Linked DNA regions of Homo sapiens: region 1 is linked to region 2. Evidence: fine-mapped expression QTL. Tissue or cell type: whole blood. Region 2 holds a variant in brackets; the other region holds the start of a gene. All regions are shown on one strand. Distances are between the middles of the regions.

Region 1 (2,751 bases), 33 kb before region 2:
TCCAAAAAAAAAAATATATATATATATAAATTAGCCGGGTGTTGTGGGCGCCTGTAATCCTAGCTACTCGGGAGGCTGAGGCAGGAGAATCGAATGAAACCAGGATGCAGAAGTTGCAGTGAGCCGAGATCATGCCATTGCAGTCCAGCCCGGGCCACAATGCAAGACTCCGTCTCAAAAAAAAAAAAAGAAAAAGAAAAAAGAAAAGAGAAACAGTGTAGCAGAGGGAAGGCCAAGTGCAAACGCCAGGAGTCTGAACTTGGAGGGACAGGTTCTTCCACACTTGCAACAGAGGTCTCCTGCCTCCCTGACCGCCCCGCCCCCCGCGCCCCTGTCTGTGTGAGGAAATCAAATCTCAGCTTGCCTAGGGCCCTGTGGCAGGGAGGCCCCAACTTCACCCCATGGGTCTTGGGTCTGCTGAGCTGAGTCAGAGAAAGGTTTATTATCCCCATTTTACAGAGGCTTATTGTCCAAAGGCGAAGCCACTTGCCCAGAGTACATGCGGTGGGCCAGCGACTATGAAAACCCCTGGGGCTGTCCTCTGTTCAGGGATCGCCCAGGCTCCCTGCCCCTGCGCGCTGCTGAGACTGGGTCATTTTCGGTTCTACCAGGCAAGCGGGGGACCCAGCCCCCACTGCTGCTGCCCTCAGCCAAAACCAGGGCTGCGCCACCACCCACCCGGCCTATCTCCCATCTTATCTCCCCAGCTCTGTCGCCTGACCCCTGCACCCCACCAAATCGCAGCCTTTGCCCGGTGCCCTCACCGCCTCGGTTGGCCCCCGCGCGCGCCTCGGGCGAACCCCTGGACTGGCCCTCCAACAGGGCCCCAGACTCGGGGTACCCAGGGTGGCCGCTGAGGCCTGGAGAAATCTGGGCCTCCCCTGTGCACCATCCAACTGCGCGCCCCAGAGGCTCAGGGCGCCCCGGGAGTGTGGGGGTGTGGACAGATGAGCAGAGCCAGAGCATCTCGGGCAGAAGAGGGGACCTGGGAGGGGGCCGGGGAGACAGACAGCGAACAGGGGTGAAGCCGGGGCCGGACGGAGCGCGCAGCGGACAATACTGGGTTCAAAGGGGAGAGATAAGGCGCAGACTAGAAACGCTAGGCTGGACCCGGGCCAGGCGCGCCGCGGGGCAGAGATGGGCGGAGCGGGAACGGGGGCGGGGGCGAGAATGGGGGGGCGGGGACGGGGGCGGGGATGGGGTGCGGGTGCGGGGTCGGGGGCCAGGGAGAGGCCTAGTTGCGTCGAGGGGGGCAAGCGCCTGGAGGACCCGGCGCCCGCTCCAGGCCCTGCCCCTCCAAGTCCCCCGCCCCGCGCCAGGCCCCGCCTCTCCAGGGCCCCAGCCCCGCGCCAGGCCCCACCGTTCCGGGGCGCGTGCCCCGCCCAGGCCCCGCCCCCACGGCCCCGCCCCGGGCTCCCCCCACTCAAGCCTTTTTTCCCCTGCTGGGGGCCGAGGCCCGGCCAGGAGCAGAGTCCGGCTGCCTGGGGCGGGCGGCGCGTGTCTGCAGCTGCTCCGGGTAGCCCGCTAGGCGCGCCGTCCCCAGCCCCGCCGCCGGCCCTCGGTGCGCCCGGCCGCCTGCACCCCCAGGTAAGCGAGCACCCCGCGCCGCGAACACCGCCCCGAACGCCACCCTCACGGCGGTCCCCGGCCCCGCCTCCGCGGCCATGGCGGCCCCAGCCCGGCCCCCACTCGCAGCTGGGCTCCAGCCCCCATCACCCCGCCGGGGACTGTCCCCCTCGGGGCTTCCCATCATGGCCGTCTCCCCGAGCTATCCGCGCTCCCCCACGAGGGCCGGGGCGCAACGGGTGCCCGAGGACGCGGCTGTGAAACGGGCTGGAGCGAGTAGGGGCGATCCTGGCCTCGTGACGCGGGGGAATCCGGATGTGTGAGCCGGGGGAGCGCCCCGTTTCCCCGACGTGCCAGGGCTGGGGACGCAGCTGGGGCCCTGGCCTCGGAGTCCGCAGCCCGGCCGCGTAGACGGCTTCTGAGAACCGCTTAAACACGTCATTCCAAGCCCGAGCTAACCCATCAGGCGGCCGGGGTGAGGTGGAGGTGCCCAGGCGGGGATAATGTCATTTGGCCTGGTTGGACCAGCCAGCGAGGGCTTTTTAGGCCCAGGGCCTAGCCGGGAGTGTGTGCGGAGCAGAAAAGAGGCCAGCCTGGCTGAAACGCGGAGAGGGAGGGTCTGAGGTGGAGAGAGGTTGGCCGGGGCCTGGGAAGCGGCGAGGAGAGTGTGGAACCCGTTCTCGGGGCGGTGGGGACCAGGGAGGCTTGGAACAGCAGGTGCATGGCGTGATCGGATTGTGTCTTAAGAACATCCCGTAGCCGCTGTGGGTAGGAGAGATGGGGATACTTGGAAGGGGGCTTCTGGCTTGACCTGGCTGGAAGGTGTGATAGGAAGTGGGTGAACTGAAAATTCGCTTTGGCAGAGTAACATCGTCTAATTCTGTCTGTTTGCAAGTGGAGCGTGGGGGACCGATGTTTCTCCTGGGTAGTTAGGAGTATATAGAAGAGGCTTTCATTGCTGGGTTGGGAGACTTGAGGAGAAGCTGCTCTGGGGGACACAGGAAGGTGGGCAGGGGGAGAGGCTGTTGTGGTTTGCAAAACCTACCAGATGGGGGAATGCTCCCATCGACTCCAGTCTGAGCTCAGGCAAGGTCTCAGGCATCTGAGCGCAGAGGCCAGGGTGACCCCACTGGGGCGACCTGGGTCTGTTATATGGGGATAGGGTTCCTGGACTGTGGAATTGTC
Region 2 (2,751 bases):
AGCTTTAAGGGAAGGTGGCAGGGGCAAGGAAAGCTTCCAGCAGCCTTAGGCACCTCAGATGCTGGAAACCGTCCTAAGGGCTTGGAAGAACCATCTAGAAGCCTCCATAGGCCAGCACCCCTTCTTTCCAGACCACTCCCCATCCTGCCCCCACCTCCTGTCTAGCAGTAACTATCACAGTCTAAGCTGTTTTTTGGGGGGTTTTTTTCCGAAACAGGATCTGCTCCGTCACCCAGGCTGGAGTGCAGTGGTGTGATCACAGCTCACTGCAGCCTCAAACTCCTGGGCTCAACCAGTCCTCTCACCTCAGCCTCCTGAGTAGCCGGGATTACAGGTGTGTGTCACTATGCCCACCTAATTTTTAAATTTTTTTGTCTTGCTATGTTGCCCTGGCTGGTCTCGAACTCCTGACCTTAAGCAATCCTCCCACTTCGGCCTCTCAAAGTGCTGGGTGTGAGCCACTGCACTCGGTCCTCTAAATTTTACTAGGTGCTCACTCCACCTCAGGTGCCATTCCGAACCACTCCATGTGGAAGAGGGGCTATTGTTTGTTCCATTTTACAGATAAAACTGAGGCACAGATAGGCCACGTTCCATGCCTGGTAAACGGGTGAGGCAGGAATCAGGAATCAGATCCGTTGTGATATCAGCATGGAGTGTTTATAAACTGCCCGCCTGCCCTGAGCCTCACAATAGCCTGGTAGAACAAGGAGGGAATCTAGCTGTACCCATTTTTCAGATGGGACAACTGAGGCCCAGGAAGACAGAGGATGACAGGGAACAAACAGAAGAACTGGATCCAAAAGAGAAAAGCTAGAAATTGAGGAACACATCCCTCAGCCTCATTTCCTCCCTTCCCTCAGGAGAAGTTGAGCCTTGCTGGCCTGAGGTGCCTGGTTATAGCCATGCCTGAGCCCCTCCCATATGCCAGACTCTGCCTCAATGCCCCAGGTGCAAGGTCTCTGAGCTGCTTAACCACCCTTCAGGGAGGGCACCTGTCCCACCAACAGGTGACGAAATTGAGGCTCCCAGGGCTTTGAAGCATTGCAGCTAGGACTCCAGCCAGTCTGCTGGGCTCCAGACCCTGTTCTTTTCTCAAACCACAGCATCTTTTATTTATGCTTTAAGAGGGAGAAGAGGGAAGGGACGAGACAGAGACAGGTTGGTGAGGTTAGTGAGAGAGTAGGACCTCTGGGGCCAGACCTCTGCAATCAGGGCATATCAGTCTGAAGCCTCCTTGGAGAGCTCCCTGGTTTAGAAAGTGCATCTGTTCCCCTTTCTGTGCCACTCAGGAAGC[A/G]ATGGGCATGATTCAGCAGAGGAGAGGAGAGTTTAGAACTGGTTATGCTTCCTTCTCCAACCCTCCCTGCAAAAACACTGGCCAGCTCCTGACATCACAGTAAGACAGGGTTGCGGGAGGGTGCTTTAACAGGATCCAAAGCAGGGCAATTGGGCTGCTTTCAGGAGGAGGTGACAACTGAGCTGGGTTTTGAAGGATGCATAGGAGTTTGCCAAACAGAGAAAGAAAGCGTTTAAGCTCTTCAGGGCAGAGATGTTGCTTGTTTTCCCCACCATTTTGTGTCTTCAGCACCCAAATACTAAATGAGCATTCTAGGCAGAGGCCAGTATTTGTAAAGGCTAGGATGTGTGAAACGATATGGTCTGGTGGGAGCAGAGTATCAGTCAGTAAACTGGTGGGCATTGAAGCTGGGCACATCAGCAGAGGCAAGGCTTGAGATTGTGAGAAGCCATTGCTCCTGTGGTTCTCCCTCATCCCCTACACTCATCATGACTTGAATGTACCAAGGTGTGCAAGGATGCATCCAAGACCCTTGGGTGAGGGGAAAACATGGAGCTGGGGGTCTGGATGCCTGGGCCTTCCTAGGACACCTAGTCCCCTTCCATCTGCACCTTGGGGTCTGTCAGAAAGGTAGCAGGGTCTCTGAGAAAGCTGCACCAGTGACTCAGAAGGCTGAGGTGGGAGGATGGCTTGAACCCAGGAGTTTGAGGCTGCAGTGAGCTATGATCAGGCCAGTGCACTCCAGTCTGGGTGACAAAGTGAGACCCTGTCTCTAAAAAAAAAAAAAAAAAAAAAAAAAAAAATAGGGGATTGCAGATACCCTGCAGTGGTCATGGCTTTGGCTGTGAGAGCTGAGTACAGTTGGGACCAAGAGTGCCAAGCTGGCCATGTGTCCTTGAGCCCCCACGGGCACACGGGATCAAGCCAACCTTGTCTGCTAGTGAAGATGATTTCTTTTTCTTGAGAAATCAACCACCTGGGCTGAAGTCCCCACATCCACCCAGCTGTTCATGTGTCTACTCTGTCTGGGATGCCTGGGCCTCGTTGTAGGTCTAGACTAGCTGCTATCCCACACCCTTGACTGCTTGTTGGGTCACTGACTTCTAGTGCCCCTCCCCAACCAGAGTATCCAATGCTAGCAACAGCTTCTAATACTTCACTGATGCCTAAATGTCAGTTGCCCCATAGCATGGTACTTAGCCTGCCCCTTCATGTGCAGTCTCTTCCTTTTTTTTTTTTTTCCCCCAAAACAGGGTCTTGTTGACCCCTTGCTGATAGATAGAGGATTCCATCCATCTTCATGGATTTCAACAGCAGCCACTCACTGACAAGTCCTACCCAGGCCCCACCCACCCCAAGCCTGTGCCCCAAACCTGAGTAGCTCCTGCCTCCTCCACACGCCCACGGGAACATTTTAGCTGCCCTCCCCCACACCCACAATTTGTGTTGTCTGA

The links. PIP is the estimated chance that this variant, and not a neighbour inherited with it, causes the effect.
Region 1: it holds the start of CERS4, and the variant in region 2 is fine-mapped to the expression of CERS4 in whole blood (INTERVAL, PIP above 0.99). The same link has a PIP of 0.9 or more in blood mononuclear cells and monocytes.

What each region holds. Positions count from the first base shown.
Region 1 is chr19:8,207,908-8,210,658 of GRCh38, forward strand. It overlaps CERS4 (ceramide synthase 4), which reads left to right and starts at 1,463. Exons shown (of 12, transcript NM_024552.3): 1 at 1,463-1,587. RefSeq lists a silencer at 1,144-2,063.
Region 2 is chr19:8,241,124-8,243,874 of GRCh38, forward strand. All of the region lies in intron 2 of CERS4 (ceramide synthase 4), which reads left to right. Among named protein-coding and RNA genes, the nearest start is that of CERS4, 33 kb to the left of the region's middle. The variant A/G (reference allele first, on the strand shown) is at 1,298.